7 linked regions of the Homo sapiens genome follow. The protein of the gene in region 7 interacts with the protein of the main gene of each other region in a biochemical or structural test. Each region holds a gene or a part of one and is shown on either strand. Other genes may lie near its edges. The genes, in order: FRK, SKAP2, RIPK1, PACSIN1, PSTPIP1, ITSN1 and KHDRBS1.

Region 1 (3,500 bases), on a different chromosome or scaffold from region 7:
TGCCTGATTTGTAAGGGTTCAAACCTGGAAACAATCCAAATGTTCATCAACACATAAATAGAACTATCCAAATGTTTATCAACTAAAAAACAATTGAATTAGCTAAAAAATTGTCATCTAGTGGAATGCAAATTTGTAAATAAACAAAAACTGCAGCTACACATAACAAAGTGAATGAATCTCGCAAACTCAAATATATAGTCTCATTATTAAAAAGCAAGGCTAAGCTGGGCGTGGTGGCTCACGCCTTTAGTCACAGCATCTGGGGAGGTTGAGATGGAAGAATTGCTTGAGGCTAGGTCTGCAAGCCAGTCTACGCAATGGTGGCAGACCCTGTCTCAACAAAAAATAATAATAATAATTGTTTTTAAATTAGCCAGGATTGGTGGCACACACCTGTAGTCACAGCTACTTGGGAAGCTGAGGCAGGAGGATCACTTCAGCCCAGAAGGTCAAGGCTGCAGAGAGTTATGATCGATTGTGCCACTATACTCAAGTCCAGCCTGGGCAACAGAACAAGACTGTCTCTAAAATAAGTAAATAAATAAATATCAAAAACAAGCAAAACTATTGATATGAGGGGTCAGTGACTGGGACGTTAACCTTATTCTGTTTCTTAACTTGGTGCTGGTTACCTGGATGAATTCACTTTGTACTCACCAAACTAAATTTTTATGAATTGTGTACTTTTATTATGTGTATCACACTTCAATTTAAAAGAATACTTTTAAAATGTCAGTGTTTTGCTTCTCTTTATGAACAAATGGGGAATCGAGTCTCCAAACTGCTATATTATGGTTCATGCTGTATTATTTCAGTATGGAAGGTTATTAAAGTAAATGTTACCTAATTTTCACCCTGGGTATAAAAATTCTCAGTAACATACACGTAGAATATTAACTTTAAGCAAATAAGTTTTCTAGTAAGCACTGTGAGAAACCTGGCTACAAAATGCCCTCCTAAATAACTGAGTTGACTTGCACTATAGGAGTATTTGCTATAAGCCAGAAAAATGCAAGGAAATATCAAACAAAAATCAAGACTTTAGGTGTACAACACTGAATTTGAAGGTAACCTTTCTAACACAGCATCAACCACAATAATGCAAACAATACACAGAAAAGCACAACTAATAATTAAAGCCTACACCTTTCATGTTCTTCCCAGTGGTCTTTAATTTGTAGTCTGTGAGAATAACACTCCCCTGTCCCTAGATGAAAGCTCCAGCAAAGTTTTTCTGCCCACTTTTAGGTATTAGACAGTCTTACTTCCACTTAAAATCACAAACAGTGTCTCAATTCAAGCCTAGATGCCCAGTCCCAGATGATAACCAAAACACTCTACTGCTACGTGATCAGATGTCGAATCTTCTCTCCTTCCCCAGCTCGGTCTGGCCCGCTTCAGGCAAAAGGCAGCAGTGGAAACATGGTATGGGTGCCTTCCTCTCTGTTTCTCTACTATAGCTGCTCCTCCACTTTTCCTTCCCAGCTGGGCTCTGAGCATCCAGACTAAGAGCAGAGAGAAGAGGGAGTAAAGAAGGAGAAGGCCACACTCAGTCAACTTCCCACTCCGAGCCTGCTGGCAGAAACTGAAGCTGACTCCTCTCTGGGACACTCATGCAGGCCCTTTGGGGCTTCCCTGTCTCTAAAGGAACCCTCACTGCAGCTGCTAAGATGCAGACATTTCTAGGATGCCTGCACCCAATTGCCTCTCAGCTTCTGTTTCCTGGGCAGTTCTCCCACCACATTCTCCCTTATAGGTCTCCTCTTATCCTCCAGCAGAAGCTTTCCTGGGCAAAACCCAAAACTCCTCCAGACTGTCCATCTACAGTGCCATGGCACTTTTGCTCATTAGGAGACCCACTTATGGTCCTGAGATAATATTTACACATCCCTTGCCCTGACAATTACTAGGAGGAGAGAGAAGCTGGTGCCCTAAGTTACCTCTATCCTACTTCCACAGGATGCTTTCACCTTCTCAACCTGAGTCAGGCACCTGTGTTCTATCCTCCCAACTGCAGAGGGTGGAGAGTTAGCTCTCAGAGTGGCCTTCCTGAAGCACCCTCTCACTAGGTTTGGGGTCCCATTCATTAGCCCAGGAATAAAGGGGGTTCCATAGTGTGCCAACAGCTTTCTTCAAAAGCAAAATGCCATCAGCAAATTCTTCCTCCATTCCACTCCTTGTATCCTTTCTAAATTATTAACAAGCTGAGAGATCCAAGAACAGCCATACCTATCTTTGACCAATTCCTTTGTCAACTGTGAGTATGGAGATCTGACTTTGAACTTCTACTTCTATTGTGTCTTAATAACCTCAATCAAAAACTCCATTTTAACATTGTTATATTCACATGTATTGACCCAAACACCATGCTAAGCATGATTTTACATTATTTTGTTGTAATCTTTTAACAGTCATATAAGGTAGTTATTAGGTCCATTTTACTACTCATAAAAGTCAGTAGATGGCACTGCCAGGATTCAACTTGGGGCCTTGTGACTCTAAGACGCTCTATAACCAGCAGATTTCACACAGCAGATCTAAATGTCTAAGAAGACACACCTCCAGTTCACGACAATAATATTATGTCATCTGTGTTCAGGAAAATGTGTTACTTTCAGCAGTGATATCATTCATTAATTTTAATGTTTTCCTTTACATTAAAATACAAAAGGCAAGAGTCCATTTAGTTCCTTCAAGAGCAATATCATTTTCTTAAACTTTTTTGTGTATCTGGAACACATCCTTGCACTCTGATTTGTCAAGCTACCATTCCTACTGGCTATGACTCTTAGGCCAGTGTTAATTGCCCTATATAATAATCATCAAATAGAGGACTTCTATCAGGATATAGAGCTTAGCTCATAATATATTCCTGAAGCTGGAAACCATCATTCTCAGCAAAATAACACAAGAACAGAAAACCAAACACCGCATGTTCTCACTCATAAATGGGAGTTGAACAATGAGAACACATGGACACAGGGAGGGGAGCATCACACACTGGGGCCTGTTGGGGGATGTGGGATTAAGGGTGGGATAGCATTAGGAGAAATACCGAATGTAGATGATGGTTGATGGGTGCAGCAAACCACCATGGCACGCGTATACTTATGTAACAAATCTGCACATGCTACACATGTATCCCAGAACTTAAAGTATAATGTTTAAAAATTTTTAAAAAAAGCCAACAAAGGGCTGGGCATGGTGGCTCATGCCTGTAATCCCAGCACTTTGGGAGGCCAAGGTGGGCAGATCACTTGAGGACAGGAGTTCAAGACCAGCCTGGCCAATATGGCAAAACCCCATCTCTACTAAAAATAGAAAAAATTAGCCGGGTGTGTTGGCATGTGCCTGTAATCCCAGCTACTCAGGAGGCTGAGGCAGGAGAATTGCTTGAACCCGGGAGGCAGAGGTTGCAGTGAGCCAAGATTGTGCCACTGCAATTCAGCCTGGGCAACAGAGCGAGACACAGTCTCAGAAAAAAAAAAAAAAGCCAA
Region 2 (3,500 bases), on a different chromosome or scaffold from region 7:
CAGTTTAACCTAGTAAGTGGTGTCAACTCCTTCTGTGCCTCTATAATCCATTTATCTAAATCCTACTTAGTTGGAGGATTATAGTTCTCATATAGCTAGATATGAGTTCTTCCCATTAGGTAAATGGTTCACACATACAGTAAACAAGGCTATAAAAAATCATATCTAATTTCACAAAAGAAAAAAATTATTTGACATATTTTCCTGGTAAGAAAAAGATATAAAGGAAGGAAATCGGGATCATGCCAAACAAGTAATTAAAAACTGTCTAAAGACAGATCTTTTTTTGGAGTCCCTTAAAAGAGAGGAACTGGCTAAAAATTTCGAATGAAACCGCCAATAGAAAAAAGAACCACAAGAAACAAATCTAAAATTTCACTGGAAACAGGAGGCTGCAAAGTAAAAGGGAAAAATTTAAGGAAACACAAGCCACATCTTCAGACATCAACATGAAAAAGGAATGCTAAAATGGTAATTTTTTTAAAGTGGAAGTGTCAGAGGCTTTTAAACCAGAGCAACTCCGTCTTGAATAGGGGCTGAGTAAAATAAGGCTTTGACCTATGGGGGCTGCATTCCCAGGAGGTTAGGCATTCTTAGTCACATGATGAGATAGGAGGTTGGCACAAGGTACAGATCACAAAGACCTTGCTGATAAAAGGATGCAGGAAAGCAACTGGCCAAAACCCACCAAAATCAAGATGGTGATGAAAATGACCTTTGGTTTTCCTCACTGCTCATTATATGCTAATTATAACGCATTAGCATGCTAAAAGACACTCCTACCAGTGCCATGATAGTTTACAAATGCCATGGCAACATCAGGAAGTTACCCTATATGGCTTAAAAAGGGGGAGAAACCCTCAGTTCTGAGAATTGCCAACCCCAGTTCAGGAAAACTCATGAATAATCCACTGCCTGTTTAGCATATAATCAAGAAGTAACAATAAGTGTAAGCAGCTGAGCAGCCTATGCTCTGCTTTGCCTATGGAGTAGTGATTCTTTTGTTTCTTTACTTTCTTAATAAACTTGCTTTCACTTCCCTCTACGGATTGGCCTCAAATTCTTTCTTGCATGAGATCCAAGAACCCTCTCCTGGGGTCTGGATCAAGACCCCCTTCCAGTAACAGAAATGACAGAAAGGGCTAAATGGATCACAAAGTAGTTAAAATGCAAATTACAAACAATGTTACTACCATTAGGTCTCATCAAATAAGAATAAAAATGAACTCAGGAATTCAAGATTGCAGTAAGCTATGATGGCACCACTGCACTCCAGCTTGGGTGACAGAGTGAGGCCCCCGCATCTCTAAAAAGAAAAAAAAAAAAAGGAATGTAACTAATATCTAAATAACTCTAACTAAAATGTTTTCATTGAATATATTAGTGTTTGAAGTAAATATTAACACGCTTTGGGTTTTGGGGAAACTCTTGCTAATCTTTGACCTAACCATTGTTATATGCCAGTCAGGACTAGAAATGGAGGAAACACTGACATTAGTATTCATTGATTCTTAAAGAAATTAGAAATGAGAAGCCTAATTGAATCAAAGTCACAAGGATCTGAAACCTCCCTCCCCTGGTCTGGTGAAAAAGAGGATATTTTGTGGAAGGTAGTATCTCGATCTAAATTCACAATATCATACAAAACTATATTTCTATGATCTGTGATAATCGTAACTGAACTTGGACTCTAAATTTTCTGACCTACTTCACTACTGACCCTTAGCAGAAGAAAGATGCTTGTTTATAGCTGTTTACAGTTTACACTTCACTGATGCCATTACTACATCTGAACATACTGTAAATTAGTGATGGAATGCAAACTAGCTACTAAATTAATTAATTTGTTAATCTCATTAGCCAAAAGGTAAGAACAACTTCCAGCATTATGTAAGTATTTCAGACTTATCTGAAATATGACAATCTTACCTGTATGTTTTTAGAATGGGGGAAAAAACTCTAAAAACTATAAATAATGTCAAATAAAACATAAATTTCCAAACAACACTGATAACAATTCCATAGGAAAGCTTACATTCAGTGATACTTTTGCCTTTTTCTTCTTAAAGTGTCCTTTCTGGAAATGAACATTATCTATTTTGATACAACCTTTACTTTATAATATTCAACTCCTAGCCTGTTTTCCCCAGAATAAAACAAAACTCAGAAAGCTTACAATCTTTAAATTTCATTATTTGGTGGCTTTATTTGTTCAAATAACAATCTTAAAATTATGTGAACTACAACTGAGAGATTTATTAATTAACAATGAAGTTATAAAATGTATCCTATTATTTCTAAATTAATGTAGTGACAATAGTGGTTGAGAACATGGACTCTAACCATATTCTCTAGGTTAAAATCCCAAATTTGAGCTGGGTACAGCGGTGTGCACCTGTAATCCCAGCTACCTGGGAGACTGAGACAGGAAGATCACTTGAGCCCAGGAGTTTGAGGCTGCAGGGTGTGATGACTACACCTGTGAACAGTCACAGCTCTCCAGCCTAGGCACCGAGACAAGACCCTGTTTCTAAAAACAAAGGAAAAACAAATTCCTAGATCTGCCATTTTCCAACTCTGTGACCTTGAACAAGTCACTTAACCTCTCTGTTCTCAGTTTTCCTAAAAGTCAAATTAATGGTGCTAATAATAGTACTTACAGAGTTGTTGTGAGCTAAACAAGTTAACATAGCTAACGTACTTAGACAAAGTGCTTAGAACGGTGCCCAGTATATAGTAAATTCTATGTACACGTTTGCTGTTATTCCTTAAATCTGTAAAGGGAGCTCAGAAAGGTGCTGTTCGTATTTAATTTTATCTAATTTTATTTTAAAATATTTAAGAAAAATAATCTATTTTCTGCCATTGAAACTCTCACAACCCTATGTTCTTAACTTTTCCAGAAATTCTACAACAGTAGGCTGGATAATAAATATTCCCTAAGGTGAAAGGCCACACAGATTAAAGTTATTTTACTCTCTTTTCTAATTCAATACAACACAATTGTTTTAGCTCTGAGGGTATTCTGGTATTTGGAGCATTTGTCAAATAATGAAATGAATCATAAATTAGTCAGATTATAATTGTTATAATTCTCAGTTATTATTAGTTTGTCTTCAGTTTACTCTGTACTCAAAAGAGGGGGAAGGGATGGCCAAAAATTCTTTTGCAATAGTAGTTGATATAATTGAACACCAACATTACCTTTATCACTTCCATAATAATAGAATACCGTTTTACTGAGAGCACACCACCGTTTCTGCCATTCAAATCCCAGAAAGCTGTGATCTGCAATAAAGAGGGGAAAATGTAAGGCCATTTCCTTACTGTAAAAGAAAAAGTTAATTAATATGATTTCTAAGATTCCTCTGAGCTCTAACATTGTGTGACTAATTTGTATCTTCTTTTCCAAGAGACAAAAAACCAAACAACAACAAACCAACACAGCTAAAGGGAATAAAGTAAAGTAGCTATGGGGCTGCCATACTTATGGGATCAAC
Region 3 (3,500 bases), on a different chromosome or scaffold from region 7:
CCATTCTCCAGCTATGAAGTACAGGAAACAAAATTTCTGCAGACACAGAACCCCTATCAGTGAGGACAGAATTCTGAATGCTCTGAGGCAGCCAACTTTCTGGGGTTATCCACTAAGTGAGGCGTCCACTTCAGCTGCCGTAGCCCATCCAGGGTTAGTTCTGGCTGACGTAAATCAAGCTGCTCAGAAGGTCGATCCTGGAACACTGGTGGAGCGCCTGGGCCAGCTTCCCCACCGTGGCTCCCTTTATGCCTTCCCTCATCACCCACTTTTGGAGCATCTGGTAAACCTTTTCTTTCAGTCCATCTCGCTCATAGTCATGGTCAATTTCATCAATCTGAGACTGTGTGAAGCCCAGTTTACGGGCACAGTTTTTCCAGTGCTTTCCCAGATTTTCCCTGATTGGGTCCAGGTGTTTATCCGTCAGACTAGTGGTATTATCTGCCAAATGGGAAAAAGAAGAAGGTATCAAGCTAAAACCCATTCAAACATTCCAGCTTCCTGAATTGCTAAAAAACCCAAGTGAAATGAAGAGTACCAGAAGACAGTGAAAAAGATAACTTCTTAGTTATATAGCTGTTGATGCACTGGCAGACATTTCACATGCCTGCTAGCCCACATGGAGTCTTTATGTGAATTAGAATAGGGCATTCCCGGCCTGGCGTGGTGGCTCATGCCTATAATCCCAACACTTTGGGAGGCCAAGGCAGGAGGATCACTTGAACCCGGGAGTTCTAGACCAGTCCTGGGCAACACAGCAAGAACCTGTCTCTACCAAAAAAAAAATTTTTTTTAATTAGCTGGGTATGGTGGCACATGCCTGTAGTCCCAGTTACTGAGGAGGCTGAGACAGGAGGATCACTTGAACTCAGGAGTTCGAGGCTGCAGTGAGCCATGACTGTGCCCCTGTACTTCAGCCTGGGCCACAGAGCAGGATGTTGTCTCAAAAACAAAACAAAAAAGAATAAGGCATTCCTTCCTCCTAGTAGACACATCCCTGAGCCACAGCTGATGGCTCTGTGAACAAAACCCCTGTGTGGCTACGAGGTTGGGTGTTCTAGTCAATCTTAGCCAGTGATCCTGTTGGTATTAGACCTTCCTGGGTGTAAAGGGAAAACCACCATTTTTGTTCCTTTTAGACATTCTCCGCTTACATCTGGCCAGAGTTAAAGCCGCTCAACTCCTGACCACCACCCCGGCCCAACAGTTCACTTTCCTCTTACTTAATCAAGGAATTGTCCAGCAGGCGTGAACCCATTCAGTTACAAAGCCTTCCTTGTCTTTCAAGCGACGAGGTAACTATACTCTTCAAGGTCTGTTTTTGGACCCTAACCCCTCCTTTACTCCACCCCACTGCCGACCGACATTGCCTCTTCTCCAATAGCCATAACCTCTCTCCTTCTACTGGTTCCTTCCCTTCGCCCTTCATAAAAATAATAAAAGGAAACAAATGAAAATGTACAACAACCACAACAAAAAAAATTCCTTAATCCCCACACTACCTCATTAAACAGAATATAAGGAAGAAAACATTTCATTCTTCCTTCCCACCTCTCTTCTTTCCTCAGCCCTCTGTGATGTGGCTCTCTCTCTATCCATATCTTATAGATTGTCAGCAGTCCAAGAACTTCCCAAGATATTTTCCAAATTTTGTCAATATTTCTGTAGGGGGTAGATCCTGGGTTTCATTAGATTCTCACAGGTGCCCCTGACCATTCGCAAGTTCTGTTCTAGGTATTTTAAAAGCTGTCCTTCAAATGGGTTAGACCAGGGGTTGGCCAACTATGGCCTGTGGGCCAAATCTGACTCCTGCCAGCATTTGTAAATCCACTTTTATTGGAACACAGCCGTGCTCATTCATGTACATATTGTCTGTGGTTGCTTTTGCACTACAATAAGAGAGGTGAGTAGTTCCAAGAGACCTCAAAGCCAGCAGGGCCTAACATTTACTATTGGTTCCTTTACAGAAAAAAAAAAAAAAAGCGCCAATCCCATGGTTAATTAGAAAGCTGAGTTCTTAATCAAGTCGTTTTGGCCTCATGACTTTTTCCAGACTGTACTTTGGGATTAGCATTATGGGCTGCACCATAGAACCCTATAAGAGATAGCCCTCTTGATTTTATTACAGAAGTGCTGTGGAGGGCACAGTCTTCTATCTTTTACAGGATCTCCTTCGATGAGGGCCTGACACAGCTATTTCTTCTGGGTCTGAGAAGTAATACTGATGATGATGATGATGAAAGTTTAACACTTTTTATAGAACTTACTATGTGCCAGGCAGTGTTCTAAGCTTTTTATACATATCAACTCATTTAATTTTCACAACAAATCCATAAATTAAATACTGTGATTATCTCCATATTAAAAATAAATAAATGACAAAGGAATTATATGGAAATTACAAAGATATTTTGCAGAAGTAACATAAGAAAACTTTCAAGAAGAATTATCAGAGAAATTTTAAGATTCCACTATGTCCTTCTCACAAGTAAGAAAGTTCAAGGTTGCTAGGCGTTGAGTCCTTCCAGGGTATCTTACCAAAGATAGCTTGGTACTTAGCAGCTGGCTCTTCTTTGAAGTTCGTATTTGTGCTGTCTAGTAGTGATGAACTCGTCCCACCAATCTCCATATAATTGTAGGCTCCAATCTGAATGCCAGTACTATTGTATATGGTATATTTTATAGATTCATCTGCATAGAGAGAAACACACAGGTAAGTAATTCTAGATCAAAAGCAAGAGAAAAAAATACAGCATGGCAAAAAAGCAGGGCTTTATGCCAAACATTAAGTTAATTATCCTATGCCACCCTTTAAACTTTTCTTCTTTCAAATCTGGCTAAACCACCTCATACCCATTAGGATGCCTATGATTAAAAAAAAAAAAAGAAATAACACATATTGACAAAGATGTGGAAAAAATGAAGCCCTTGTGCACTGCTGGTGGGAATGTGAAATGGTGCAGCTGCTCCTATAAAGAGTATAGTGGGCCAGGTGCGGTGGCTCACACCTGTAATCCCAGCACTTTGGGAGGCTGATGCAGGTGATCACCTGAGGTCAGGAGTTCAAGACCAGCCTGGCCAACATGGTGAAACCCCTTCTCTACTAAAAATACAAAAATTAGCCAGGCGTGGTGGTGGGTGCCTGTAATCCCAGCTACTCAGGAGGCTGAGGCAGGAGAATCACTTGAACCCAGGAGGCGGAGCTTGCAGAGTGAGCCAAGATCGTGCCACTGCACTCCAGCCTGGTGATAGAGTGAGAGTCTGTCTCAAAAAAAAAAAAAAAAAAAAATCGTGATTCTTCAAAAAAATTAAAGATAGAATTACCATATGATCCAGCAATTCCGTTTCTGAGTATATACCCAAAAGAACTAAAACAGGGTGTTGAAGAAATATTTCTACCCACGTGTTCACTGCAGCATTATTCACAATAGCTAAAAGGTGGAAGTAAGCCAGGCACCCATGAGCAGATGAGTGGATAACCCAACTGTGGTCTAGCTACA
Region 4 (3,500 bases), on a different chromosome or scaffold from region 7:
ACCCAGGCCACGCCCCATTTAGTTCCCTGCAAATCCTCGCAACCCGTCTTCAGATCCTGCCTCTACCCCACCACACACCCAATGCAGGCCCAAGCCTCTCTTTCAGGCACCACCCCTGCCCCACCACACACCCAATCCAGACCCAAGCTTCTCTCTCAGGCACCGCCCCTGCACCACCACACACCCAATCCAGACCCAAGCTTCTCTCTCAGGCACCGCCCCTGCACCACCACACACCCAATCCAGGCCCAAGCCTCTCTCAGGCACTGCCCCGCCCAGCCGTCCTACCGGCCTTAAAGCTGAGCTCGTCCTGCTCCTGGCCGTCATAGTCGTAGAGTGCCCGCACGCGCACTCCCTTGGAGTCGTCCTCAAAGGGGTTGGCGCCCCCGTTGGTCTCACTGCCCCCAAAGGGGTTCCCACTCTCGTCGTCTGACCACTCGGTGGCGTAGGGCTGGCCTCTGTCGTAGCTGCTAACACTGAGACGCGGAGGAAGGAGCCAGCTTCAATGTCTCCCCGTACCGCATCCCGAGGGCTAACCGCTCCTCCTAATCAGAGCCCTGATCCCGAATTCTACCAAGGCTAGAGCAAGGATTGGCCACATAGGAGGGGTGACCCTCATGAGCTCTTTAAACCGATGTTTAAATGCAGGACCATTTGCGTTATTATTCAGCCCTCGAGGGAGAGGGCATTGAAGGGGACCCCAGGGCACATCTGAGCCTTCATCCGGGAGGAGGAGTACCACCTAATGTTTAAGAGCAAGGATCCTGGAGTCAGACCTCCTGGGCAACATATCTGGCTCTGAGGTTTACTAACTAGCAATGTGATCTTGGGCAAGTCACTTAACCTGTCTGGGTTTCAGTTTCTCCATCTGTAAAATGGTAATATTTACGCACTTGAGCATGAATGAGTTAACATATGGAAAGTGCATAGAACCGTGCCACACACAGTAGGTGCTCTAGAAGGATATGCTACCACTATCTTTTAGAGAGGAGGCTTGGTTCCTGTGATCTGGACCGGGGTCCCCAACCCTGGGGCTGCAGACAGTCCGTGGCCTGTTAGGAACCAGGCAGCACAGCAGGAGGTGAGTGACAGGCGAGGGAGCATTATCGCCTGAGCTGCACCTCCTGTTAGATCAGCCGCGGCGTTAGATTCTCATAGGAGCGCAACCCCCCTATTGTGAACTGCGCATGCGAGGGATCCAGGTTGCACGTTCCTTAGGAGAATCTAACGCCTGATGATCTGAGGTGGAACAGTTTCATCCGAAAACCACCCCGCTCCCATCCGTGGAAAAATTGTCTTCCACAAAACTGGTCCCTGGTCCCAAAAAGATTGGGGACGGCTGCTTTAGAGTGATGAACTACCACTATCTTTTAGAGAGGAGACATAGTTGCTATGATCTAGACCATTTCTTGTCTTCTGAAGCAAAACTCAGCTGCCCCAGAGTGTGGGTCCCTCTTGGCCCCAGGAAGCTCCACAGGAGGCACTCACCTGCCGCGGTCCCCAGCCTGGGATGTGGACTCTACCGCCCCAGTGGCATTGGTCAGCGCCACTCCCTCTGCCTTCTTAGGCTGTTTCTCCTTCTTGGTGGTGGTGTGAGGAAGGTCTGGGTTCCACTCCTGGTGGGGCCAGTGGAGCAGTCAGGCTGGGGGACTATGCCCTGAGGCACCTTTCAGCCTCTTCAGGCTCCCCTTCCCATCCCCACATATCCTCACCTCAAACTGGGGCCAGTTCATGGGCATGCCGGGGCCACTGGTGCTGCGGAACCATCTGAGGTCTTCCTGGGCATCAGCCCCCCGGATGGCCTGCTCCAGCTCACGGTACACATGGATGTAGCTGTGCTCAGGGAGATGGGGGAGGTGGAGGGCACAGATTCAACATGGCCCCTCCTCAACCTTGGTGAGAGGCCAGAGTCCACTCAGGGAAGCAGGGTGCTGGGCATGCTGCCCAGCCAGGAATCATGTGGGCTTTGCAAGAATAAGCTCCGGGCATGCTCGGTGGACTCCTTTTCCCTCCCACCTTAGCCATTCACCCATCATCCAGCATGTGTTTCTAGAGTACCCAGTGTGCGTCAGCTTGCACTCAACAGCCCCTGTGTTTGAAGCCTCATCCTTCTTGACCCCTGCAGCTCTGCCTCCCCTTCCCGTCACTGTGATGGAGGGCTGGGATGCCCTGCATGCCAGTCACACCATCTGCTGGCTGTGCCTGTGCCCTCGGTGCCTGCCATGCCCAGGTACCTGCTGTTCTCAGCCAGGTTGAGGTGCCGTTTGATGTCCAGCAGCACCTCCTTGAGGAAGACCAGCCGCTTTTCCTCAAATTGCTGGCATTGCTCAAACACCTGCTCCATGTTCTCCATGTACTGGGGTGTGGTCTTGCCCACATCTTCCAGCACTTTCTCATACTTCTCCTGTGTCTGTGGGCACCAGAGTGGAGAGAGGGTGACACCTAGCCAGGCCTGCAGCTCCCAGCCACCACCCTCTGCAAGGGGCCCCCAGACCCCCTACTGCCATCCCTGCCCGCCAGCACCTTCTGCACATCCTGCTTGCACTTGTCCACTTTGTCCTGCAGCTTCTTTTGCTGCTCAGGTGTGACCGATTGCTCCGTCTTGCTGTTCATCTCCCGTGTCATGGCCAGCTTTTCCTCTTTGCAAGCCAAATGGTAGGCCTTCTTGGCTGCCTCCAGCTGTGGGGAGGGGGGAATAGGGAGTAGGGTTTTCATTTGTGACCAGCAGCAAACATGGTCACCCATTAACTCCTCCCCTGCCCACTCCCTGGGACCTGTGAGCCCACACTCTTAAGAGCCAGAAGGGATGCAGGCCCTGGCTCCAGGTGTTCGGGAGCAGCGCTCCTCCATTTGTGGCTGCGTCTCTGCTTGGCACTGCCTGCTCCCCTGCAGATACCCTCCTGTCAGGCAGTGCAGTGCCCGCCCCATCTGGGGACCCAGGGGCCAATGTGCTCTTCTGCCCCTGCTGGTATCTTTCCTGGGGACAGTGCCCCTTTTTGCCCATGGGTCTCCTTACCCAATGGGCACTGCCTACCCATCTGTGAATATTTTTTCCTGGAAGGCAGTGCTGCTCCCCTGTGGGCACAATCCCAGAGGGCAGTGCCCAGCCCACCCATCCATAGATGCCCTCCCTGGGATCAGCACCCTCTGATCAGACGGGCCCACCCCACCCCGCCCGTGGCAGCACCCACTGAGCACCTCCTTCATCTTCTTGGCCCAAGGCTTCTGGGCCTTGCGGAAGCCATCTTCAGCCTCCTTCGTCTCCTTGAAGCCACCCATGATCTGCTTGTGATAGGCGTCCTTCTGCCAGTTCTTCACCTTCTCCAGGTCCTCATTCAGCAGATTGTTCTTCACCTCCTGGTGCAGCTCGCTCACCTTGTCTGCCTCTGTCATTATGGCACCCCAGGCCCGCTCCAGGCTGCCATACTGTGGGCCTGAGGGAATGGCAATAGGTCACAAGAACCTCATTGCCCCTGCCCAGAGGCCCCCCCTCACATCTC
Region 5 (2,425 bases), on a different chromosome or scaffold from region 7:
GTGAAAGTTATGTTCCTGGGACTAAAAAGAGAAGGGGCTGAAGGCCTTCAAGAACAGCTCCCTCTGTGCCCGGGGCCAACGTGCCTGGGCTGTGGACCCCTGCTCGGCCGGGGTTGCCATGTTGAGGGGAGTGTCATGGGCAGCAGTGGCTTCCCCAGGCCCCACTTGCACCCACAAGCCACAAGCCTGTCTTCCTGGGCTCCCACCATGGCCTCTCCAACAGATCCATCACCAGCTTCCTGTTTCCAAACTGAGTCCTCCGAATATTCCTGGGTGTACCCCCAACCTCACCTTTGCCCACGCACTTGCCCTGGCCTGGCCACTGCTGCCCAGCCATGGACCTGCTCAACCCTCCGCCCCCAAGAAGCCTGCTCTCCCCATTGCAGCCCTGCTGAGCCCCTTCTTGCCCCTGCCACATCCTCCTGCACCCCTGTGTCCTCTGTCCAGGTGTGAATGTGTCTCCTTGGCAGTCTGGGAGCTCCTAGCAACTGGGGCCAGGCCTCTTCTCCAACTATAGCTGAAGCCTCGGCTGAGTTGGGGAGCTCCACATCCAGGCTCCTTCCCTTGTTCCTTTGCCTCCTCTGAACTGAGCACTCGGACACTGGAGCAGGAGAAAAAGAGAACGGGACCCCAGCACACCAAGGAGAACAGAACGCACTCCTTTATTCCCTGGGAGACGACAGGCTCCCTCTCGGGGCTGGGGGACGCTTGGTTCTGGGCCCTAGCAAGGTGGGGACAGTGCTGGGGGCACTGCTGGCTCCACTGGCAGGGCAGGTCCGAAGGGGCTCCTGGCCCTTCCTCAAAGCTTCTCCAGGTAGGAACCAGGGACGAAGCCACGCTGCCCGTTCCTCTCCACAGTCCACCAGCCATCCTCCCCTTCCAGGATCACCTCCAGGATGTCTCCCGCGGACAGGTCCAGCTCATCTGGGTTCTGGCCAAGAGATTGAAAGCGCATGACGTTGGAAGGGCCTGCAGGGAAGGGCCTGCAGGGAGGGGCCTGGCGTTCCCCCACCCAGCAGTAAATGCGGCATGTCTCCCAGGGTGGGCAGGGGCAGCCCCTTGGGGACACAGGATGGGGGTAACCCAACGGACCGGGCCTCCCATCCCCCTCAGTTTGTCATCATAGTTCTCCCCCAACCTGGGTTTCTTCCCAGCCTCACCTCCCCTCTCCCATTCTGGAGACGCAGTGACTGGAGCATGTCAGGGGTCACGGGTGCTCATCATACCCCAAGCCCAGGGCACACTCATGCCTAAGCTTACCACAAGCCTCCCCTTTGCGGTCCCCAGCCCCAGCTAGCCACTGCCATCCAAGTACCCCATCACTCTCCTGGCCTGGCTTCCCTGCCTCCCCGAGCCCTGGCCTCATCAGTGGAGTCCACACCCAGCCTGCCTGGCTATGTGGGGGTGCTTGGCCTCAGTCCAGGTGGATGTGAGGTCTGGCTATGCATTCTTCCCCTCAAGCAGGGAGCAGAAAGGACTCTCATAGCTGCCCTGTGGCTGCCTTGGTTCATCCTCACCCTATGGACATCAGAAAATCAATCCTGGCACGATAGCAAGACTCATTCTGGCCACAGTTTTCCACACCCATGGCCACGAAGGACAGGGCCCTGACCCAAAGGCACAGAGCCTGGCCCTCAAGCTATGACCTGCAGGCAGCTCCAGGCTCTGCCAGCTCCCCGCACGTGTGCACCACTCAGCGCCCAGCCTGTGTGGACGGCATAGGTACATGTGCTCCACGTGTGTGCTGTGTACAGGCCCGGGCAGACACAGGCCTGCTGCACACCAGCTTCCAGTCAGTACATGCACACTGAGGCCCCGCAAGCCCTGGGTGCTGTTCTCAGAGCTCACATCCAAGCACACTCCCAGGTACCCTTGCTAGTGTGGACACACTCGGGCACACGTGCCCTCCTGAGGAGGAGAGGATGCTCGAAGATGAGTGAAACCATGAGGAGAGATGAGGACGCAAGGCACTGGATGGGAGAGGGAGCTCTCAGGTGCAGGGGAGGTGGCACAGGTGGGTTTGGGGTATAGAGGCCTCACCTGCGCTGTATAATCGTAGAGCGCCCGGTACTCCTGGGCTGGTGAGGCCGGGTTTCCCTGTATCTCCTGCACTGCGATGGCTGTGTAGACACCCTCATTCCGCTCGGGGGTGGGGGTCAGGGTCTCTGTGGACGCTAAGAGCAGGGTGAGACATAGACCCCTCCCCTTCTGGGGACACTGGCCCCTGGAAGTCCTACTAGAATGGGGTTTCTCCATGCTGGGCCCTGCCTCTTCCTTCTGCTGTCCACACTTGCTGTTGGGGGACACACACTTCCTCTTGAGGGCCTCAGTGGCCCCATCTGTGCCATGTGGGAGACCTCTCCTCCCCCCCAGGATCAGTGTGTTTGGGGGTCCCCTCCTGACCCCCTTTACCAGCAGAAGCTGC
Region 6 (3,500 bases), on a different chromosome or scaffold from region 7:
AAGTTTCCCTTCTAGTTGATGCTTTTTATCATTCTTGAACAAATGAAAGATAATAAAAATTATTACTGTTTTTAATGGTTCCATCTTAGTATATTTTCAAAGTATAACCAAACTTCACTCACTAGAGCTTCTAATTCAAATTCCAAAGTCTTTTTCTTTGCTTTCAGTACAACTATGTCCTCTTGTTCTTTGTTTCTTTGATTTAGTAGTTCTTGCCTTCGATTCCGTTCCCACTCAAGTTGTCGTTGCCTTTCAAGTTCCCGTTTTGCAGCCTGTGACATTTACAGAGACAAATTACTAATTTTTCAGTTCTTACACTACACAATGTCTTTTCACAAAAATGGCATCTAGGAAGTCTTTCCTTTTAGGGATGAAATATTAAACATTACAAGAAATCACATTAGAAAACAAAAAATTACATAAAAATACAGTATTCCTTCTATGGGAATAAAGGGAATACACAGAACTGGGTATTATATTTACATAATACTATATTTACGTAAGATGACAGGATTATTTCCCCATTAGAATTCCATTCTTTATGCCTTCAAGAATGCTTGATGTGCTAACTAAAAATGCTCCTTCTTATTTACTGACACGCCAAGAAGGAAAATTTATGTAGTAAAATCAAACTAAAACACCCCTGAACAAAAACAAACAAGAGTTGATTTTACTCCACCAAAAGAGAAATTATTACTTAACTCGTTTTAAAAGTCTGCGACTCCCCACTTCCTAATCATTCATTTCCTTTTTACCACAAAAGCTTTTGCTCCCTCCAACGACTGGCTCTGACGACTGCTAGATAGAGTACATATCAGAGCATCTGACAGTCTATGGGAATTGCCTCTGACTCATGGGTCATCCAACTACACCTGATACATGGTAAATGTCTATTAAATAATTCTGAATAAATACTCTAGAATATCATTTTTTTGGTACGTTGAAGAAAAGTTTGCCTATCTTTGTTCATTCTGAAAATTAAAATTTTGTTAGTGTCTGTCTGAACAAAAAGGAGTTACGGGGCCGGGCGCAGTGGCTCACGCTTGTAATCCTAGCACTTTGGTAGGCCGAGGCAGGCGGATCACCTGAGGTCAGGAGTTCGAGACCAGCCTGGGCAACATGGCGAAACCCTGTCTCTACTAAAAATACAAAAATCAGCCAGGCATGGTGGCTCACGCCTGTAATCCCAGCTACTCCGGAGGCTGAGGCAGGTGAATCACTTGAACCCAGGAGGTGAAGGCTGCAGTGAACTGAGATCGTGCCACTGCACTCCAGCCTGGGCAACAGAGCGAGAGTCTGTCTCAAAAAAAAAAAAAGGAGTTATGGCTATAAGTTTTGTTTCTTTCTTTTTTTGAGACAGGTTCTTGCTCTGTCACCTAGGCTGGAATGCAGTGGCCTCCAACTACTGGCCTCAAGTGATCATCCCTCCTTAGCCTCCCAAAGTGCTGGGATTACAGGCTTGAGGCACAGCACTCAGGCTATTTTTTTACATCGAAAAATTCCTCATTTTTATCTTTCATTCACATGAAAGAACCATGTGTTGCTTCTGCAGTAATGTACTAAAATTGGAAAGAGAGACAAGATTTGCTTAGCCCCTTTCCAGGTATGGCGCTAAATTTACGAAGCCTTCCATAGAATATAGGGAGGATGTCCCAGACATATTTTTAAAAGAGTTTAAAAAGAAGGTTGCATGGGCCAGGCGCGGTGGCTCATGCCTGTAATCCCAGCACTTTGGGAGGCTGAGGCGGGTGGATCACCCGAGGTCAGGAGCTCGAGATCAGCCTGACCAACATGGTGAAACCTCATCTCTACTAAAAATACAAAATATTAGCTGGGCGTGGTGGCGGGCACCTGTAATCCCAGCTACTCAGGAGACTGAGGCAGGAGAATCGCTTGAACCCAGGAGGCAGAGGTTGCAGTGAGCTGAGATCATGCCACTGCATTCCAGCCTGGAAGTGACAGAGCGAGACTCTGTCTCAAACAAAAAAAAAAAAAAAAAAGAAGATTGCAGAACAATGTAATTGGTATGATACTATTACAGTGGTTTTTAAAAAATTATACAGCCCTTACACTCTCCGCCATATAAACCTTTATATTTTTATATAGGTGTATACAGAGAAAACAGTCTGGAAAAACACTTTACTGGTATCAGTGGTTTGTTACAAAATTGTATCATCAAAAACTTGTACATTAATGTTCATAACATCATTGTTTATAATAGCCACAATGACCATCAACTGCTGAATGAATTAAAAAATGTGGTATACCCATATAACGAAATATTACTCAGCCATAAACAGGAATAAAGGACTGATTCATTTTACAATGTGGATGAACCTTGAAAACATTATGCTAAATGAAAGCCAGAAACAAAAGTCCATATATTGATGATTCCATTTATAAAAAATGTCCTGAATAAGTAAATCTAGAAAGATAGAAAGTAAAATTAATGATAGGAGCTGGAGGGAGAAAGAAATGGGGAGTAGCTGCTTAATGGGTAAAGAGCTGGAGTGATGAAAATGTTCTGGAATTAGGGACGATGGTTGCACAACTTTGGGAATATACTAAAACTACTGAATTGTAAAAAGACAAAGATGGCGTGAATAGATCACTTGGATAATTCTGAAAAGGGGTGATCGCACACTAACTCCGGGTGGCTCCACTCTCGCCTGCTTACCTCTCGCCTCTCAATTTCTTTCCTCCTCTCCTCCTCTCTCTGCCGTTCTAGCTCCCGCTGCTTTTCCAGTTGCTTCTCCAGTTCCAGTTGTCTTTTGCGCTCTTGCTCCTGGCGCTCACGCTCCTTCCTCTCCTGCTCCGCCCGCTCCAGCTGGGCCAGGCGCTCCTGCTCCTTGCGCTGCTGTTCCAGGAGAGCTTGCCTTCGTTTCTCCAGTTCCAGGTTGCCACGTTCAAAGTTCTCCCGCTTCTTATCTTCAAACGTTACTTCAGACAAGGAACACAGCAACTATGAAAACTCAAGATTTTCAACGGACTCTTTTCAAAGGAAAACTCACCAATGTATTTGAAATTTGTAGTACAAACCCAAACCCAGAACTCCCTAAGCTTCTGTGTCCTTGTTAATGAGCACAACGAAAACCCCCTTTGCCTAACCTCTCTGTTTATATCTTCTCCTCCACGCCAAACACTGTTTCTAAAAGATCCTTATCTAGCAGTTCTACATCACCATCCAGACTCCTTTCCTTCCCTGTTACTCCATCCTTTCCCTTCTTCCCATGAGCTTGCCCTAGGAATTAACCCCCTCTCTTCTGGACCATGAGTCTCTGTCTCTCTCCCTCCTTCCCTTTGCCTTGTAACCGTGCTGATGAGTCCTCTATTCTAACAAGATTTCTCAAAGCAGAGTGAAAGGTGAGCATTCGGCTTTTCACACTGAAGAACAAGCTGTGCCCTGATCCCTATGGAGATCACAGTCAGTCAACAATTTTTTCTAACCCATTATTCAGTTTCCTTCTTTAACACATCAATTATAAATTTAGAATGATTAC
Region 7 (3,255 bases):
CAGCATTTCTGGGATTGAAAGAGAAACCCTCAAGGGCACCCAGAGTTGGCTGAACTGTCATGCCTAAAGGCAGATGCTGTCCCCTTCTGAGCTCACAGAAATTATTTGGTGTCACACTTTAGAGCCACCTAGGGGTTCTACAGAAGGTGCAAACCAGGCTGGCTTGCACTTTTAAATACTGAGACCTATCTATGGAAACCAATCCAAGTTTCAGCTCAGTTGAGTTGAAAACTCTCCATAAATTAGAATTTTTGATAGGATTGGATACAACAGCTTCCAACAACTTCCAGGGGGTGAAAAAGCTTTGGTTATTTTTAAACTAAAACTTAACAACTCCATCAACTTTTTTTTGGTAAACTTAAAATAAAATCCCCCCCACCACTTTTAAGAATGTTTCCAACTTTTAACAAGCCCATTAACTTTAGAGTTAATTTAAGTTTATTTGAAAGAGAAAACTATTTTATGGTCCACCCAAAAAAATGACAATTCATCACATTTACTTTGATTAAAAAAGGACTAAACTTTATTGACAAACTGCTGCAGACATTTTGACATAAGTTTAAGCTACCTATTTAGGCAGACTTACACATGTAGCATTTAATCTTCCGAGAACAAAATGGGAGGACGGTACAAATCCAATTAGGACTTTAACTTATGTACAAAGTGGATTTTGATTCCTTTTTCATTCAGCTGCAGTGTCCCTTTTTATATCATGCTAGTGTTGAGACATACTTGACTAACTTGGGAACAGTTCGATATATTGACAACCGTCAACTTAAGAAAATCAACAGCTTTTGGCCCCAGCGTCCAAGTGAACTTTTCATGGAGTGCAGAATCTCAAATGGACAAAATACTTTGTCTTTTTAAATACTGAAAATTTAATTATTAGTACTATGACTGAAAGATTCTTCATGGCTAAAAAGCTCTGCATCAAACTCAATTCAGGAGGCCTTCCCTCCCCACCACCATCAACCTCTTCAAAACCTACTCCCTCCCTCTAAGTATCTCTCAACACAGTATGTCTGGGGCTAGATTTCAAAACCCACGTAATGAAAAAGTCAGTTTTACAAGCCTAATTTTGTTGTTTTTTTTTTTATATCAATTAACGTTAAAAATTGCATCAACTATTTAATTCATGAGGATCTTTCATATTAAAATTTAACCTTAAGATTCAACCGCCATGTGCTTTTATAAAGGAAACATTTTTTAGAGACGTCTGAGCTCACTTTTACATGGTGGTGCCTACTGCCGTTAATGTTTGTGATTTTAAATCTTAAACAGCCCTGAATTTTGAAATGTAGCCTAGTTTGGGATTCTGCAACTACAACTTTACGGGATGCCTCAAATCAAAACTAAGAGAAACTTAACAAGCCTTTACTTCAGAACCTTTAAGCAAGCAATGTCATTTTTGAAACTAACAGGTTTGTGTGTTTTTTTTTTTTACTCAACTTCTTTTTTTTATTATAAAAGGTACACTTCTGTTTATATTTAAACAACAAAGAAAAAAGCATCTACACACTTAAAAAATTAATTCAATATTCCTAAATCTATTTTAACTCATTTTAAAATACTACATACAGAAGCCAGAATGCAGAGTTAAGAATGGAATAAGGTGGGGAGAAGAAGGGGACCACGAAGAAAAACACTTAGACAATTACTTGTCTGTTGTGGGTAAAGCAACAGGAATCCTGGGAGATACAAGAAATCAGTAACAACTTTGCTCATAACTGATATTTTCCCCTCATGTTTGTTTTTAATAACGTCCATATGGGTGCTCTCTGTATGCTCCCTTCACTGGCCTAGCAGGAGGGGCCTTCAGCGACGGCCTGGTCCCATTCCAGTCGTCCTGGCCTGTGGGGAAAACAAAGACAGTTTATAAACCATGTGGCGACAGCACTTAGGGATAAGCAGGGATAGGTCACATAGTAAAGATCACCAAAAACACTGAGTTTCTTCTAATGTCTTGACACTTCCCCTGGTGTTCCTTGCTCTCTACTTGGCTTGGCCCTCTTGGGCAGCCTGGGCAATTTTTCAGTTTTGAGTGGAAGGACAGAAGGGAACAAATCTAAAAAGGCTGCCATTGACTCTGGAGTAATCTCCCACAACGAGGTTCTTCATAGACAAATGTGATCTGTACGCCAGTCCCCAAACCTGGAGATACCCAACACCTTGCTTGAGATAGTGAGGAACTCATTAATCTTAGTGAGTCTGCAATGGCCTTTCCTGTTCCCAAAACAATTTGGCAGGCACCCTCAGGTAAGGTGGGAAGACTTCTGGAAGTCTTTCAGATTGGAAGCAGGCAGCCAGCCCCACTTCCATGCAACAGCAAGTCACGTTTCCTTACGGAGAAGTGTCCTCTAGCTCCCTGGGAAAACCAAGCAAGGGCCACTTTCCATGGGGCCCTCCACCAGCAGAGCTGATACTGCTCTCTCTGGTAGAGGGATGTGCAATCAAATGTTGCACTGACAGCACTGTTTAAGATAATTCCAAGGCTGCATGCGGTGGCTCACGCCCGTAATCCCAGCACTTTGGGAGGCCAAGGCAGGCAGATCACAAGGTCAGGAGTTCGAGACCAGCCTGACCAACAGGGTGAAACCCCATCTCTACTAAAAATACAAAAATTAGCCAGGCGTGGTGGCGCATGCCTGTAATCCCAGCTACTCAGGAGGCTGAGGCAGGAGAAGTGCTTGAACCTGGGAGGCAGAGGTTGCAGTGAGCTGAGATTGTGCCACTCCACTCCAGCCTGGACAACAGAGCCAGACTCCATCTCAAAAAAAAAAAAAAAAAAAAAAAAGGATAATTCCTTATCTCCTTTCTTAAGTCAACAGGTGAGAGAAGCCAGAAGCCAGACAATGTGGTTCACATCCTCAAATGGTTCTCCTTTGTGACAGGGAAAAGCCTGAGGAATATGATCACATAATTCTAGAGGTGACCTCTTATGAAAATAAATTGCGTTAAATTTATTCTTCCCACACCTTACACACGCTAGTTCATCCCTGAAGTATTTTTCCAGCTGCCTGTATTCACAAGTATCTGCCTCCATCTCTATAGGCCTCAAACTCCTATACAGATCTAAAGTCACACAGAACCCTAATTATACCCCTAGTATAACACACATGTCCATCACTTTCCAAGTGGCTTCTGGGTATCAACAAGACAGTTTCTTTTTCTTTTTTTCCTGACGTATACAGATCATCCTGGACAGTTTATTTCTCTAATTCTGTTAATCAAAGCAGAGATCAGAACGGATTAACT

The links.
Region 1: the proteins of KHDRBS1 (region 7) and FRK interact in a test that uses a peptide from one of them, tested with the Homo sapiens proteins (one study listed by BioGRID).
Region 2: the proteins of KHDRBS1 (region 7) and SKAP2 interact in a test that uses a peptide from one of them, tested with the Homo sapiens proteins (one study listed by BioGRID).
Region 3: the proteins of KHDRBS1 (region 7) and RIPK1 form a complex in vitro, tested with the Homo sapiens proteins (one study listed by BioGRID).
Region 4: the proteins of KHDRBS1 (region 7) and PACSIN1 interact in a test that uses a peptide from one of them, tested with the Homo sapiens proteins (one study listed by BioGRID).
Region 5: the proteins of KHDRBS1 (region 7) and PSTPIP1 interact in a test that uses a peptide from one of them, tested with the Homo sapiens proteins (one study listed by BioGRID).
Region 6: the proteins of KHDRBS1 (region 7) and ITSN1 interact in a test that uses a peptide from one of them, tested with the Homo sapiens proteins (one study listed by BioGRID).

Annotation. Positions count from the first base shown.
Region 1 is NC_000006.12:115,970,392-115,973,891, forward strand, and holds part of FRK (tyrosine-protein kinase FRK), read right to left. Parts: intron 1-3,500. UniProt on the Homo sapiens protein: Non-receptor tyrosine-protein kinase that negatively regulates cell proliferation.
Region 2 is NC_000007.14:26,735,591-26,739,090, forward strand, and holds part of SKAP2 (src kinase-associated phosphoprotein 2), read right to left. Parts: intron 3,289-3,500; coding exon 3,205-3,288; intron 1-3,204. UniProt on the Homo sapiens protein: May be involved in B-cell and macrophage adhesion processes. In B-cells, may act by coupling the B-cell receptor (BCR) to integrin activation. May play a role in src signaling pathway.
Region 3 is NC_000006.12:3,109,994-3,113,493, reverse strand, and holds part of RIPK1 (receptor-interacting serine/threonine-protein kinase 1), read right to left. Parts: intron 2,692-3,500; coding exon 2,539-2,691; intron 442-2,538; coding exon 155-441; 3' UTR 1-154. UniProt on the Homo sapiens protein: Serine-threonine kinase which is a key regulator of TNF-mediated apoptosis, necroptosis and inflammatory pathways.
Region 4 is NC_000006.12:34,528,576-34,532,075, reverse strand, and holds part of PACSIN1 (protein kinase C and casein kinase substrate in neurons protein 1), read right to left. Parts: intron 3,435-3,500; coding exon 3,199-3,434; intron 2,680-3,198; coding exon 2,524-2,679; intron 2,411-2,523; coding exon 2,235-2,410; intron 1,834-2,234; coding exon 1,713-1,833; intron 1,617-1,712; coding exon 1,489-1,616; intron 477-1,488; coding exon 289-476; intron 1-288. UniProt on the Homo sapiens protein: Plays a role in the reorganization of the microtubule cytoskeleton via its interaction with MAPT; this decreases microtubule stability and inhibits MAPT-induced microtubule polymerization.
Region 5 is NC_000015.10:77,035,551-77,037,975, reverse strand, and holds the end of PSTPIP1 (proline-serine-threonine phosphatase-interacting protein 1), read right to left. Parts: coding exon 2,413-2,425; intron 2,175-2,412; coding exon 2,041-2,174; intron 932-2,040; coding exon 800-931; 3' UTR 501-799; downstream 1-500. UniProt on the Homo sapiens protein: Involved in regulation of the actin cytoskeleton. May regulate WAS actin-bundling activity. Bridges the interaction between ABL1 and PTPN18 leading to ABL1 dephosphorylation.
Region 6 is NC_000021.9:33,771,501-33,775,000, reverse strand, and holds part of ITSN1 (intersectin-1), read right to left. Parts: intron 2,941-3,500; coding exon 2,678-2,940; intron 273-2,677; coding exon 123-272; intron 34-122; coding exon 1-33. UniProt on the Homo sapiens protein: Adapter protein that provides a link between the endocytic membrane traffic and the actin assembly machinery. Acts as a guanine nucleotide exchange factor (GEF) for CDC42, and thereby stimulates actin nucleation mediated by WASL and the ARP2/3 complex.
Region 7 is NC_000001.11:32,041,123-32,044,377, reverse strand, and holds the end of KHDRBS1 (KH domain-containing, RNA-binding, signal transduction-associated protein 1), read right to left. Parts: intron 1,852-3,255; coding exon 1,754-1,851; 3' UTR 501-1,753; downstream 1-500. UniProt on the Homo sapiens protein: Recruited and tyrosine phosphorylated by several receptor systems, for example the T-cell, leptin and insulin receptors. Once phosphorylated, functions as an adapter protein in signal transduction cascades by binding to SH2 and SH3 domain-containing proteins.